Linked DNA regions of Homo sapiens. The protein of the gene in region 1 binds, or shares a complex with, the protein of each later gene. Links are inferred from orthologs where the notes say so. Each region holds a gene or a part of one and is shown on either strand. Other genes may lie near its edges. The genes, in order: PEX5L and HCN2.

Evidence for each region.
Region 2: the proteins of PEX5L (region 1) and HCN2 are in contact, whole or in part, in a crystal structure (PDB 4EQF), measured with the Mus musculus proteins. The link is inferred for Homo sapiens from one-to-one orthologs. Residues at the interface, in NP_001156988.1 of Mus musculus: Glu315, Glu317, Val343, Asn347, His426, Asn453, Arg454, Ala457, Thr458, Ala460, Asn461, Tyr472, Arg484, Tyr487, Asn488, Ile491, Ile494, Ile537; in NP_032252.1 of Mus musculus: Leu859, Ser860, Ser861, Asn862, Leu863.

The regions. Positions count from the first base shown.
Region 1 is NC_000003.12:180,033,173-180,041,063, reverse strand, and holds the start of PEX5L (PEX5-related protein), read left to right. Parts: upstream 1-4,126; 5' UTR 4,127-4,464; coding exon 4,465-4,485; intron 4,486-7,891. UniProt on the Homo sapiens protein: Accessory subunit of hyperpolarization-activated cyclic nucleotide-gated (HCN) channels, regulating their cell-surface expression and cyclic nucleotide dependence.
Region 2 is NC_000019.10:592,147-600,096, forward strand, and holds part of HCN2 (potassium/sodium hyperpolarization-activated cyclic nucleotide-gated channel 2), read left to right. Parts: intron 1-7,950. UniProt on the Homo sapiens protein: Hyperpolarization-activated ion channel that is permeable to sodium and potassium ions. Displays lower selectivity for K(+) over Na(+) ions. Contributes to the native pacemaker currents in heart (If) and in neurons (Ih).

The DNA.
Region 1 (7,891 bases):
GATGGTTATTCAAAGCAAAGAGCCTTGAGAAAAGAGGCTTCCTGCCACTAGAAGAGGATGTTGCTCTGGGCAGCAAACGATATTCCATGACTGTGAATAAAAAGCTGAAGTTTTGGGACATTAGTGGGCAATGGAAAGCCACTAAAGATTTCTGACCTGAGCAGCATTGTGATTAATGCTGACCTTTATAAAATTAATCTGGCTGCGATGTATATGACAGGTTGATGTAGGAGATGAACGGAGGTGATAAAACTAGCTTTAAGTGATAAGAGGTTTAGGGAATCTGGGCTAGGATGGCAGTGGCAACAGTAGAAAGGAGTAGTCAAAAGCAAGAAATATTTTTGTTCACAAATGTTTTCTCACCAGGAATAAGAAACTCTAGAAAGTACACTTAATATTAAAAGCAATATTGGATCACTGAAAAAACATTGTCCTAAAGAGTAAACAAATATAGTGTAATTTCTTAAATTGGTTTAATAGGAGGCCCAGCTCTGAAGCATCCAGCTTGTTTGTTCATTTGGAAGAACATTGCTGCCATCTCCTCGTCATCAGAGTCCACATACTCTTATTATTCATAATTCTTCCTGGCAGCCTGGGGTTCCCAAATTTTTTCCAGATCAAATGCCCTGAAACACCAGCTAATCTCATTCTATGTGTCGAAGAGACAAAAAGGGTAAGTGGGCAAACTTTAACAAAATGTTCCTCCTTCTGATTGAACAACAAATACCAATTAGTCATTTTAATTTTGGTCTACAATTATTTTGACTTTTGTTCTCTCCTGCACCATCTTTCAGCACCAGAGTTTGAATTCTACAGATTATGAAAGAATGATTGAATCATCAAAAGACTCTTATCTCTGATTTTTAAGTCCACAAGAACACTAACCTCATCATTTTTACTAAGTTTTTTCAAAGATTTAATAAATCCTGAATTTTCAATACCCATTTGAAATGCAGGAGGATTCGCTTACTAATAAGCAAAATTAAATTTTGTCAATACAAAATAGATTCTACTGCTACCTCTCAATTATTTAATTGTATTACAGTGATTAAAATTGCAGTGGTACTAAGCACATTTCTTGCTGTAAGAAAGCTGAATGTGCTATGATTTTATGCCAAGTCCACTGACCACTCAAAATACAGTGAGATTATTTTATAAATGGAGTGCAATATGCATTCTTCTTCTCTAGTGGTACTGAGGTTGCTCATGTGTTATCACTGCAAAAGGCAAGAGCTAGCTTTGCCACATATTTACATGAATAAATAAACCTTCTAGGCCACAGTGCTGGTCAAATTTTATGGTGCATACAAGCACCTGGGGATCTTGTTGAAACGCATATTCTAATTCAGTAGGTCAGAAATGGCACCCAAGAGTCTGCATTTCTTACAAGCTCCCAGGACATGCTGATGTTGCTGGTCCACACACCACGTTTTGAGTAACAAGGGTCTTCAAATTTAATTACAAAATAAATCTTTTGTAAAATATTTTTCTGGACCTAGCTTATTAGACATGCATTGTTTCTGAGGAAAATAAAGATAATTCAAATCTCATTCCTAGTCTAAGAAATAGTCTAGGAAAGTGAAAGTTAAGCTTAACCAATCAGAAACCACAAACTAACCTCTAACTATGGACTTTCCATTAGAATGATCCAAATAAATCCAGTATTCCTCTTTAACCAAATAATTTCTTTGCTCTGCTTCCACATTTACCCTATAAAATCTTTCCCTTTAACGACTTCCGACAGAGTCCCCAACTGCTTTCGGTCTGCTGCTGCCTGATGCATGAATGGCTATTTGCTCAAAAAACCCTTTAAAATTTTAATGTGCCTTAGTTTATCTTCTAACAGAAGGAATAAGTGTGAAGAGGAATTCTTCACAAAGGAAAGCTTTCACTCCTGAGATTTTGAGAATGTAGGCAGTAACGAAATCAGTGACTCAGGTTTAAGAAGAGAATATATTGAGTTCTAGCTTCAACACTAGGCAGTTGCCATTCTGATCCAAATGCTTTTATGGTTGTTGGCTCCTTGAACCTGCCGTTAGATAATAACAAGCATATAATGGATTGGAAAACTTTGACCCTATTGTTACTTCACAGATTTCTAGTACTTTTAAATCAAAGCACTATACTTTTCCCAGTTTTTATATAACATGATAGTATTATATGATAATTAGTACCATTTTAAAATCTGCAGTACTTGAGGTCTCAGAAAATCAGTCCTCATCTTTTCTGAACTGGGAAAAAAAAGTCTGTTTGCATATTCATATATCATGGTTGGTAATTTACAACTTCCTTTGCATACATTCAGTCCTCAGCAGCTCTGTGCAGCACACTAGGTAGATATTTGTCTTATTTCAAAATTGAGGAAATAGAGAGTTGGTACACTTGCCCAAGAGAGCATTGAGGTAGTGAGATGGAACTAGCACCTCTTGTTGCTGACTCCAAGTCCTGTGCTTTGTCCTATAAAGAACAATAAAATAAGAACTGGATGACATTTTACAGTTTACAGTGCTTATGAACATATCTCTATTTTCAGGGTAAAAAAAATAAGTTTTTTATACAGAGTTTAGACATGAAAAAACTGATGTCCAAAGTAGTAAAAGGAAATTGTCCAAGGGTAACTACTAGTGGAATCTAATAGGAATCCATGTCTCCTGCTTACAGGTCTTAGTCCTTTTGTGTTTGTTTGGTTGGTTGTTTTAGGACCTCAGATGCATTGAATTGGTTCATTTCACATCCTTTTGTTCATTTCACATTCTCCTCATTAGTCCATACATGGTTCTATTTTATTTAGTTACACAGTAATTTTTAATAGGATATTAGGTGTCCTATGAATCACTACCCGGCATAGAAGATAAGACATTAACATCTAAACTTCAAGTGAAATGCTTCCCCATCTATTTCCCTGCCTCCCTTCACCCAGGGTCACCAACACTCTGAACACTATATTCATTGTTCCACTGCTTTCCTTTTTATATTGTTGTATATGAATATATGAATACACATTGACATTTCTAGGGATTTTTTAAACTTTATAAAAAGCATATTATGCTATATGCAATATTTTGGGGATATCATGCTGTACATAATATGAGGGGCCTGTAGAATTGGAGATGTTTTTACCAACAAAATTAGGTAATCACAGTATACACCACCCCGTGGTGTGTGTGTATATATGAACATTTATTGTGTAGACACATCAAACTACCCAGTCTCAACTTGAGACATATTTAAATGCACTCTTCATATATGTGTGTATGTGTGTGTAAGTGTATAGTAGTAAAGGTCTATTCATTCAGCAAATATTTATTGTGTGCCTGCCATGTGTCAGGAAGTACTAAATACCTTACTGTGCACACACGTGCAAAACCAAGTGCAACACTCCACCCCCCTAAAAAAAAGTCCCTGATCTCATGGAAATAACATTGTACAGAGGGAGAGACAGACAGTACATAAAATAAATATGGAAAATATAAAGGATGTTAGGTGATGTTACGTGCTAGGGAAAAAAATAAAACATGCCAGATCCTCAGGGACTAGGGTTTGCCGTTTTAAATAGAATGCTCGGCGATGAACTGGGGATGAGGGGAGCGGGGAGTCTTTATTTAACGGGTGATACGGACGTAACTTTCGAGAGCTGAATCAGAACCGAAGTAAACTCTTCGGCAACCCCTGCACTCAGCCTATAATGTCTGTAGGATAACAGGCTCAGCCGCGGTGGATGGCCCCCGGAGAGACGATGCATGTCTTCCCGCCTTTCTTCCGGCCGGCCATCCTCTCCGCTAGAATCGCCCTGCCCGCCGACGCCGCACCTGAACGCCGCGCTGCTGCGGGCGTTGTACACCAGCGCGACCACCGCCTGCCGGCACCTCGCCTTGCCGCCGCGCGCGCGCAGCCCCGAGGACGCGCTCGGGGAGCGCGCACCGCCCGGGGCCGCCCTCGGGCCGCTCCCAGGCCCCTGGGAACGCGCGCGCGTGCCCGGTCCCGCGGCCTCTCGGCAGGCACGCGGCTGGGAGAACGGCGCGCGCCCCGCTCGGCAGCTGCGGCGGCGGCTGGTGTAGGCGCTCACGTCAGGGCTGGGAGGAGGGGGTTCGCAGCTCAGAGAGAGAGAGACATGAGGCAACCTGGCAGGAAGCGAGAAAGAGTTCGGCGAAGAAGGAGTGAGTTCTAGAGACGCCCCGCGAGCAGGACCCGCGCCTGCAGGAGAGCCTGGCCGACCCGGCTCCTCGCCTTCTCTGCGCGCTCTCCCGCGTCCGCTTTCAGCACCCCGAGCGGAGAACAGTTCCCGGCAGCCCGCAGCGCTGCCGAGTGGCCGCCGGCCGGCCGAGTACCCGGAGCTCCAGGGGGCTCAGGAGCACCCTCTGAGAACCCGCTGTGCACCCACCTTTTCCCCTCTTTTGGTGGGCAAGTAAGCACGGGGGAAAAGCATCCGGTGGCCTCAGGGAGCCCTGAAGAAACCGAAGCAGAATGTACCAGGGACACATGCAGGTAAGACATTTCTATAGGGCTGGAGAGAATTCTTGGGGGCTAATTTAAGAGCAAGGCGGTTCACCAAGTTTCTGTGGTCAAGTGCTGCCTTCGCACAGCTCAACAAGTGAAGTGATGCAACATGACCGTGACATTTCTGTCCGGTGCTGCCGGGAAAACTAGACCGGTTTCCGAAGGTGGGAGAAGGGGAGGGAAGACCTCAGAACTTCGATTGGGGAAGTTTGTTTTCTGTGCATTCCCTGAGCCTGTTTCTTTAAACAGGATCAAGGAATCGAAACAGAGGAAACCCTAGAGATGACCGTGTTTCCGTTGTAATCCTATTGATGCATCTCAGCATGTATGTCAACTGAAGGGCAAACAATAATAGGAAAGACAAAGCTTTTCCTTTACCATCTGAAAAGGTTGCTTGACTTAGAACACTCTGTCACTTTCGTTTCATTTTTTAAAGTGTTATATTTAAAAAACGATTTATAGTGTATTTTCCCCCTTCACATTATGGGACATTGCCATCTACTCCAATAGTCACAGGATGACTTGGGAGGATGAATTTCAAACACATGTCCAAGGAGCTCTAATGTTTTTCAGGGGAGGTGCTGCCTCCGGTTGTTATTAATATTCATCTGAGCTGAGCCGCTGCTTCTTTCCGATGCAAACACACTCTACTCTCTTGGGCAAGATTACTTTAACCTTGACTCCAGTTCTCATTCATACGGTTGGTTGGTTCTTATAAAGGCAGATATATGCTTTGGGAGAAAAATAAAATACTAACTCAGCTTTCTAAAGTATGAACTGGACTCTTTATCGCACCTAAATGGTTTAGTCATCAGGTTTGATGTTTGGGCTTCCTTTCCATTCCAAAGATGGTCAAATACAATCATTATGTGTGATGCCTTTATCCTGGTGTATAACATTTATGAATACTGAGGATTTTGCTTCTGTGTCTTTTAGAGCAATTGGAAATAGATAAATATGTTGTTATATTTATGACTTAGTACTACCCAGATTTAATTTCCATAACTTAGGGAAATTCTTTTGGACTATAATCCATTTTTAAATAAAACACAATATTTCATCATAGTCTCAATTTTTATAAGAATTCTCAATATACAGTGCCAGAATTCCAAAAGATTTCCCGTATGACTAACATCATCCTGTTTTGAAAATTATTAATGTGATTATATCACATTTGATAGACAAAAAGTAGTGAATGAAGTATATTTTTAAATATTATATATGATCAATGTGATCTGCATGTTTCTTATAAAAGCTACACCAATTGAAAAGTTAAGTAACATAGAAGAATTCAAATAATGACTGCTGAAAAAATTAACAAAGAATTATTACTATAGTTTTATGCTTCATCTTCACCCAAGAATGATACTTACAATTTTATATATTATCTGTTTTTTAAACAGTTTCTTCACAAGGGTAAAACAGGAAGATTTTAATAGAGTCAACCCTCAAAAAATTGTTCATTTACACAAAATTGACAATTGACCACTAAGGGGAAATTAACAAAAACTTTGCACAGTATTGTTTTGTTGCTTAAAAAATATGTTACTGTGAATGAAGAATCGAAGCAACAATATGGTAAATTCATGCACCCAAAAACAATTTTAACTCAATTTTCTCAATATCTCAAAGGAGAATGTTATTGAAACTTGAGTTGCCTGGAACAATGTCTGAGGGTTTAATTTCACTTTGAAAGAATAAACAAAATATAAGACTCTGCATATTCTCCCAACTTAATGTCTTTTGCTTGTGCACTGCTGTAACAGCAAATATGATGACTTGCAGTAAAACTCACAAATCTTTGCTGCCAAGCTTAAATTAAAACATTACTAAATAAAGACTGTAATCAATACATCCACCAAAATTTCAGAGCATAATACTTTTTTCCTACTTACTATTAACCATTAATGTTAAGCATAAAACTTCCGAGGCCTTAGTAGGTACGTTTAGTAGTTATTCAATAGTATGATGATCTGAATGGGCATCTGCTCCCCCCAACAAAAAAATACCTATGACAGATTGATTCATAATATACTTGTTGGCTTACATTTTAAACTCATATCTCTTCCCCCAAAGAATATTATTTAGCCTATGGACAAAATAACGTTTCCTTATCAGAGATACTATCATCTTCCTGTGTGTACCTGACTCTAATCACAGATAAGAAGAAACACATTCCAAACACTCCAAAATGTGTATGATTAAAATCTGAATCCATATTTGGTAAAGTGGACCAGGGATAAGCAGATTTACTAACATTTCTGCCAGCTTTGGAGTTAATTTGAAACATAATGTTACTTGACTGATACCTTAAAACAAGAGTGAAACAGAAATGTTTGCAATCTTTTGCTATGCATTCTAATTCTTCTCTTTTCTGTATCCAAGAGACTTTAAAATAAAGTGCTTTGTAAATTAGCAGTTTGAAGTAGGGGCAGGTGTTCTCAGGAAGACTTAAAAATAGTCTAATTTAAAACTCCTGTGGTGCCTTTGTTTTTGCAACTTAATGATTTTGCAGATAAAGTCTATTAATTCTCATACATATGGCTAATTCATCTGGTTTATGGTAGAATCTGAATTCATTTTAGAAACCGCAGACTTTTAAAAACACACATTTGGTTTGCTCTGCTAGTTCATTAGAAAATAAAAGTTGGCATCTATTACAGATAGAGCATAGAGTAACAGATATTTCTTGGTTTCATAGTAAAAGCCGCAGGTATATTTCTTAGGAGCAGGGTCCTGGAGCTATGTTTTTATCCAGCTGCCTTACCAATTATTTCCAAGGGGAGTTAGTCACCCCAGTAAATGAAGCAAAGGTTGCTTCTTTTGTGACTGTTTTAGATTTACTTATTTTTTTCTTTTGACCAAGGGCACTGATGATGATTGAATATACTTTAGCATCGGTTCTGACAAAACTCTGTTGCTCATTGAGGGCCTATGGTCTTAATTCCACCAATACCTCTGTATGTTCAGGGCTGAGGTGATTATTTGCCTATGTGCATTTGAGTTAACATTTCCAGTTAGAGGAAATTATTACATGTCTCTCAATGTTTTCTTAACCTAGCTGTTTTATTTCTGGGGTGGTATAAATACAGAGAAATATAATTTCAATTTTCTACTAAGATTTTTTGAATTGTTATTGAAGAATCCACAGCAATGGGTTTTTTAATAAAAGAAAGTTATTTCAGAAGGCAATCAAACAAAAAATCTATTTGTAATTGTAACTGATCTTTATTTTAGGCATTCAAAGCAGACTTTTTGACTTATTCAAGCTGTCTGGGGAATCATTCCACACCCTCTAGCTTCACAAGACATAAACTAAGGAAAATTTAAATGACAAAAATTGTAAGATTATTAACAGCCCAAAAAGTAGCCATTTGTTTTCCCCCAGGGGAGT
Region 2 (7,950 bases), on another chromosome or scaffold:
CCACTTCCAGTCGGGCAGTGGCACCCCCTGACCGGAGAGGGACGCGGTGGAGAGGGAGCTGTAGAACGTGCCCACTCCCCTCCGTCCCCTCCAGCATGACCTTCGACAGAGATGGGTGCACCGCAGCGTGGGGGCTGGCAGGTGGAGGCCCACACCAGCCACTCCCTCCCCTGGGCAGCTCCAGCGACCCCCTGGCTGCAGAGGGGCGGTCGGTGGCCTGGGGGGCAGGTGGGCAGATGGCTGATCCCGGGGCTTGGGGGGAAGGCCGGTGGTAGGAGTGAAGCCCTCTCATCCTTCCACCCTCCTTGGGCGTGGTCGCCTGGAGGCCTGGGCAGGCTGTGGCCCCGCTCTGTGCTCTGAGGCATAGAGGGCTCAGAGGCCCCTGTGTGGACCAAGTGCAGCCCCACCCCGGCAGATGAGTGTTGAAGTGGAACTGAGCAGGCAGGGAATGGGGTTAGCGGGGCCTGTCTTCGGGACTAGGGGAGTCACGGCAGTCAGATTTTAAAAAAGGATTTCGATGTTGCCAAGCTGGGTGCACGGGGCCCCTAGGACCCTCCCCAGGCTTGGGACCTGTGCCAGTGTGGAATCAGTGTGGAAAAAGACCCCCAAGAATATCTCAAAAGCTCCCTAAGCAGGCGGCCGGACCCTGCTGTGGAGGGTGTTTTGGGGCAGCCCACAGCAAGCGAAGGGGCCTCTACGTTTGCAGCTGACTCAGGAGCCTGGCCCCAACTGGCTTCGGGCCCAAGGCCTCCTGTGCCTGGCTGGGTGTCTTGGGTCCTCGCTGGGCCCCTCTGCCTCAGTTTCCCCAATTGCACGGTGGGGATGGTATGAGGGAGAAGGATGGGGTCTTTCACAGCCTTGCCAGTGTCTCAGCCTCACGTCTCACACTCTCTTCACCTCCCCTTCCTGCTGAGAGAGTGCTGTGCTCCTTGCCCAGCCTGTGCCCCCCAGGCACGCCCTCACCCCGGTTCTTCCTCGCTGCCCAGCTGTCTCCGCCACGCCCAAGTCCACCCTGCTCCCGTGCTCGGAAGTGGCCTCTTTCACGCCCCACGTCCCAGTCCCAGTATACAGCAGGTGCCACATATTTGCTGAATTTTCTGAGGGGCAGAGCATGGGTCCTGGGCTGACGTGGGTCCAGATTTCGGCTCTCAGGCCTGGGCGGCTGGCCCCTTTGGAAGTGCAGTTGGTGCCAGGGTGCAGCGGCTCACGCCTGAGATCCCAGCACTTTGGGAGGCTGAGGCGGGCGGATCACCTGAGGTCAGGAGTTCGAGAGCAGCCTGGCCAACATGGTGAGATGATCCCGTCTCTACTAAAAATGCAAAAATTAGCTGGGCATCGTGACGAGCGCCTGTAATCCCAGCTACTCGGGAGGCTGAGGCAGGAGAATCACTTGAATCCAGGAGGCAGAGGTTGCAGTGAGCCGAGATCGCGCTGCTGCACTCCAGCCTGGCTGACAGAGTGGGACTTGGTCTCAAAAAAAAAGAAAAGGAAGAAGAAGTGCAGTTGGTCTATTGCTGAAGTCTCTGGGGCTGTGGGTGGCTCTACACCCCGGCCTGACGTCTGAAAGTCCCCAGAGGCATGCTGGGCGCTTCCCTGGGGTGCTGGTGGAAGAGCAAGTTCAAGGACCCAAGTTCAAGGTTTTGGGTTCCAGAGGCTCAAGTTCCCTTCCTTGTAGGTGATCACGGTTGGTGCCTGAATTGGAACAGGCGTGAAAACCAAGAAGGAAGGGGTTTGGCCTTATGCAACCCCCAGGGCTTCGGCAGGGTCTTCTGTGCCTCCCAGAGCAAAATTAGGTCAAAAATAAGTATAGTTCATTCCTACTCCCTTCACCCCAGCCGCCGCTGATTCTAAAGGCCACACAGGTCCACTTGGGAAAGCCTGAGTCGTGCAAAGGAGGGTGTCTCCGCAGGAGAGGGGCAGGGGCTGGAGGTCTCTGCACGAGAAGGGCTGGGGCTGGAGGGTGTCTCCGCAGGAGAGGGGCTGGGGCTGGAGGGGACACGAAGGCCCAGGGAGGGGCGGTCTGAGGAGGTCGCGTTCTCCGAAGCTTGCTGTCATCCACCCTCCCTGCCCCCGGTGTCACCGAGGGGGCTGGGCAGACCTGGCGGGGTGGAGACCTGGGCAGATCCGGGGTTTGTGCCCTGGGAGCTCTGGGGGGCACAGGGCAGGTGTCGGGTGGAGAGAGGCTGGCGGCTTCCTGACTGCCCTCGGTCCAGTTCCAGGGCTAAGTGCCCTGTGGCCGCCCTGCCGTCTCCTGCTGCTGCTGACTTGCAGGTCTGTGTTTCTGAATTGTCTTCAGCTGGGGAGGCCCCGTGTGAGGGGAGACAGACGAGATGCTCCCCAAAGCCAGGATCTGTTATGTCCCCTGGGGTCCCCGAGAGGACTGGTCGGGGAGGAGCTGCTCCAAGACCCCACCAGGACAGGCGGCCCCTGGGCCCCGCCTCAGATGGCTGAGTGGGTCAGCGGGAGATCAGCCTGGGGGTGCAGCTCTGCAAATCCGCAGTGATGAATCCCAGCATTAGGGCGTGGGAATAAACCCCCCATTATCCTGGGGGGATGGCCCCGGGGGCAGGGCGAGGCGAGGGTTTGTCTGGCTCTGGTCACGGCAGGAAGGCCCAGCGTGTGCAGGATGGTGGGGTGTGCATGGACCCATATCCCAGGTGGCGGTGGCCTGCCCTCTGGTCTGCGTGGAGGGGTCAGGGGTCGGGGTGGCCAAGGCCTCCCCGCTCTCTTCAGGGCCTTCCCTATGTTCCCTGCTCGAAAACGGACATCTTTGTCCAGGCACTGTGGCTCATGCCTGTAATGCCAGTACTTTGGGAGGCGGAGGCGGGAGGATCGCTTGAGCCCAGGAGTTCGAGACCAGCCTGGGCAACATAGCAAGACCCCCATCTCTACAAAAAGTTAAAAAATTAGCCAGGCGTGGTGGCGTGCACCTGTAGTCCCAGCTACTCTGGAGGCTGAGGCGGGAGGATCACCTGAGCCCAGGAGGTTGAGGCTGCAGTGAGCTATGATCGTGCCACTGCACTCCGGCCCGGGAAACAGAGTGAGACCCTGTCTCAAAAAAATAAAAAAAACCTAAAAACCCACATATTCAAGTCACCTTCATCAGCCCCCCACTCACTTGGGCCGGGCCCTGCCTCACCCCCCACCCCACGGTTCAGCCTCGCACCCTGTGCGCTGGCCGCCTCTCTCCTGCCAGATGCCTCCCCGTCCCCCTTTCTGGCCTCCCGGCTGTCAGCATGGGCCTCTCCAGACATCGGTCCTTCTTTCCCTGTCACCTCTACCTCCTCCCTGGCTCCAGCCCTCCCCAGTCATGTCCCCTGGTCCCGAGGCCGCCCACCGGCCTTGAAGGGAACCCGGAGCATCAACCTCCGCACCTGCTGCCCCTCTTCAGCCACTGCCCTCCCCTCACCATCTCATCCACCCACACGCCACCTCCTCCAAGGAGCCCTCCCACCTGCCTGGGGCTGACAGGCCCATCCCATGTGTCTGTCTTGGGGCTGGGCCTGTGTGGTCATCGTGTGCCCCGGCGCCCGGCGAGAGTTCGGTGAACATCTGCCCCGTCGGGATCACCCGGGAACCCGAGATCTCCCCCACCCGTAGCAGCTCCCTTTCTTAATCCTGGGCACCTGCCACGGATCTGGCCATGACTCCACAGCTGAGAGTGCCGTCTCCTAATCCCCCGGCCCGAGGCTCTCCCTTAATCACCGACCTCCGGCCCCTAATCCTCTCCCGGATTGTCCCCATCTGTAAATCCTGGACGGCCTCCGGCCTGAGGCTGGGCTCCTGCGGGGAGGGCCTGGCTGCCCTCGCCCGTTCCCCAACCCGGGACTCAGGCTCCAGCAGGGGCTGAAGACCCCCTGGGCAGGCCCTCCCCTGGGATCCAAGGGGCTGAGGGTCCTGGGCCTTCTGTTGCCAGGAGACCTGGTGTCCTCGTGGGGTTTGGGAGCCGGGTCGGCGGCCTCCTCCCCCAAGCTTCATCCAGCCCTGGAGAGACGGGGACCTGCGTCGGCTTTGGGAACTTCAGGGGAAGAACCCTGAGCTCGGGGCAGGAGAATGACATGGTCTGTCTGGGTTCCCATCCCACTGTTTCACTTATGGCTGGAGGAGCCTCAGTTTCCGTGTCAGAGCCGAGAGAGAGGCTGGGCGGCTGTTGGAGGAGGGCTGAGCTCACATCGGTGTCAGGTGCCGGGGGCCCCACTGAAGCCACTCTGGAGTGAGAGGGGGTCCGAGGCTTCTTCCGGTCCCCCAGGTGTGAGAGCTGAGGCCGGAAGGTTTCCCCAGGGACCCAGCCTCATCCCGGCCTCCGGAGCTGGTCTCCCTCCCTGCCTGCGAGGGCCAAGCTGGACAAAGTGGCAGGACCCCCGCGTTTCCGAGGAAGGGGCCCTCGTAGAGGCCTCACTGTTACCTGTCGGGGATGGGTTTTAAATACAGGATTTAATGATGGTCACTGATGTTTCTGTGACAGCTGAGGGGGGCCTGTCCCTGCTCAGCACTGGGGTTGGACAAGGAGGGCACAGGGTGCCCGGGGAGTGCTGGGGCCCGCCTGGGTCCCTATGGTGGCCGGATGGGGAAAGGGCTGCCGGACGCGGCTGCACAGAGTGTGAGGGGGAGTGGGGTTGGGCTTTGGGCCTTCCCCTGACCCCAGGTCCCCTCTCTGGGGTCCTGTCTTCTGGAGCTGCCTCCCCCTCCCCAGGGCGAGAGGCAGGAGAGGGTCTCCCAAGGTCACTCAGTCTAGTGTTGGGCAAGGAGAGGGTTGGGGTGGAGAGGGTTGGGGTGCACCGGCAGAGACAGTGACGCCCTGCAGGGCTCTGGGGTCCCCTCTGCCCCAGGCCTCGGTTTCCCCTTGGTAGGGGACATGCGTGGGCGCCCTTCTTCCTTCTGACCTCTGGCTGGTGACGACGAGGGTTGCGGCCCCAAGCCCTGCTTGGAGGCATTGTGGTTGGAACGGGCAGGCCCAGCCCCACAAGGGACCCTCAGGGTGGCCACCCCACCTGTCCCTTCTCCTAGGCCCCTCTGCTCTGACCCCCGTAATCCCCAGGAATACTGCCCTGCTGGGCAAGATGGGCTGAGGAGTCCTTTCTGGGGACACAGGAGCAGAAGGCTCAAGGGAGGTGGTTTCCAGACAGTGTGGGCCGTGGATAAGAGGACAGTCCTGGGGTCTCATCCTGCAGTCCCACTTCCATCAGAGGGGAGGTGTGGTACCTGCCCCCAGCTCACCCCAAGAATAAAGGGGGAGAATGTCTGTTAATCATCACCTGGAAAGGAGGCCTTCATGTTATATGGCCGTTTAAAACCAGGTACCCCTTGGCGGTTTCTAGGTCCTCCTGGTGGTTTCTAGGTCTCCTTGGCGGTTTCTAGGTCCCCCTTGACAGTTTCTAGGTCTCCTTGGTGGTTTCTAGGTCTTCCTGGTGGTTTGTAGATCTCCTTGGCGGTTTCTAGGTCCTCCTGGTGGTTTCTAGGTCCCCCTTGGTGGTTTCTAGGTCCTCCTCGTGGTTTCTAGGTCTCCTTGGCGGTTTCTAGGTCCCCCTTGACAGTTTCTAGGTCTCCTTGGTGGTTTCTAGGTCTTCCTGGTGGTTTCTAGGTCCTCCTGGTGGTTTCTAGGTCCTCCTGGTGGTTTCTAGGTCCCCCTTGGTGGTTTCTAGGCCCTCCTGGTGGTTTCTAGGTCTCCTTGGCAGTTTCTAGGTCCTCCTGGTGGTTTCTAGGTCTCCTTGGCGGTTTCTAGGTCTCCTTGGCAGTTTCTAGGTCCCCCTTGGTGGTCTCTGGAGCCCCCTGGGAGTTTCTCCTCGCCCCTCGTGGGGGAGGTTTCTAGGCCCTGTGGCCTTCTCAACTGCTCTTTCCTGCTGGTTTTGTCCCAAGACTGGTGCTCGAAGGTGGGAGGCAGGTCTCAATCCAGAGGGTGAGGCTGGGGCTGAGCTCCACGGTGAGCCCCCTCGGGGCTGAGGGGCAGGGGGCCAGCGGCAGGCGGGTGGCATCCCCTCAGCCCACTCGGTGCTGGGGCCCTGGGGGTCTCGTTGCTGAGCAGATGTGTCGGACTGGGGGCCTGAGCCCTCATGTCCTGTCTAGACTCAGGGAAAGGAAGGCCTTAAATTTCTAGTCCTTTTAGTCATTTGATTTCACCCTTCAAGCTTGTGAGGGGACCCCTCCCCACCCCGAGATCAAGTCAGCCTTTTTTTTTTTTGAGACAGAGTCTCACTCTGTCACCCAGGCTGGAGTGCAATGGTGCAGTTTTGGCTCACTGCAGCCTCGACTTCATGGGCTCGAGCAATCCTCCTACCTCAGCCTCCCAAGTAGCTGGGTCCACAGGTGCGCACCACCACGCTGGCTAATTTTTGTATTTTTTGTAGAGACGGGATCTCACTATCTTGCCCAGGCTGGTCCTGAACTCCTGAGCTTCTGTGATCCTTTAGTCTTGGCCTCCCAAGGTGCTGGCATTAGAAGCATGAGCCCCTGCACCCACCCTTCCCTTCTTTTTTGAGACGGAGTCTCGCTCTGTCGCCCAGGCTGGAGTGCGATGGCGCGATCTCGGCTCACTGCAAGCTCCGCCTCCCGGGTTCATGCCGTTCTCCTGCCTCAGCCTCCCGAGTAGCTGGGCCTACAGGCGCCCGCCACCTCACACAAAAAAATAATACATTTTTGTATTTTTAGTAGAGACGGGGTTTCACCGTGTTGGCCAGGATGGTCTCGATCTCTTGACCTTGTAATCTGCCCGCCTCAGCCTCCTTAAGCCCTGGAATTACAGGCGTGAGCCACCGTGCCCAGCCTGAGTCAGCCCTTCTCTAGGTTTTATCCCCAGCCTGGGTGGTTCTTGGGGGGTGTCCCGAAGGCTCAGCCCCTCCCCATCCCGAGGCGGTGGATGCTTGGAAGAAGAGACTGAGGTTCTCAGGGGCTGCAGGAACTTGTCCAAGGTCACTGTGCCAGCAGGCGGGTGCCAGCCCAGGTCTGGCTGATGCCACCACGATGTGAGTCGCTGGGTCCCTTCCAGCGTTTGGCTCTTGCAGACCGAGCTGCTGTGAACATTTTGGTACAAATGGCTTTTTAATTTTTTTCTCTTCCTTTTGGACCGTTTCCTCGGGATCATTTCCCCGAAGTGGAGCGTCTGGGTCACCCCGCAGACGTGGTGTTAACAGCTTTTCCCTCGAGGAGCCGTCCAGAAGCAAGGAGCCGACTTTCGGCGGCTCCTGAAACAAAGGTCCCGGCGGCCACGCCAGCGATGAGCTCCCAGGTTTTTCTTTATTGGTGTTAACTTTGGGGAGTCCCTCCAGTCCCTCAGCATCTCCTCCGAAAGGATGTGGGGACCCCGGCCATGATAGGGAGGGGCTGGGCCTGGGGTGGGGATAAGGCCTCAAGAATTGGCCGGGCGCGGTGGCTCACGCCTGTAATCCCAGCACTTTAGGAGGCCAAGGCGGGCGGATCACGAGGTCAGGAGTTCGAGACCATCCTGGCTAACATGGTGAAACCCCGTCTCTACTAAAAATACAAAAAAAAAAAAAAATTATCTGGGCGTGGTGGCGGGCGCCTATAGTCCCAGCTACTCGGGAGGGTGAGGCAAGAGAATGGTGTGAACCCTGGAGGCGGAGCTTGCAGTGAGCCGAGATTGTGCCATCGCACTCCAGCCTGGGCGACAGAGTGAGACTCTGTCTCAAAAAAGAAAACCTCAAGAACTAAGAAGGCTGAGTTGGTACAGGGATGGGAAGGGGTCCCGTGTGTGTGTGTGTGTGTGTGTGTGTGTGTGTGTGTGTGTGTGTGTGTGTCAGAGGGTCTCATGTTACCCAGGCTGGTCTTGAACTCCTGGGCTCAAGCGATCCTCCTACCTCAGCCTCCCAAAATGTTGGAATTATAGGCATGAGCCAGTGTGTTTGGCCTAGCCCCCAGTGTTAATGGCAAAATCCTATGAATCTTTGTGCTGGAAATTCAAGACCCTCCCTTGTCTGAGTCAGGCACACGCAGGCC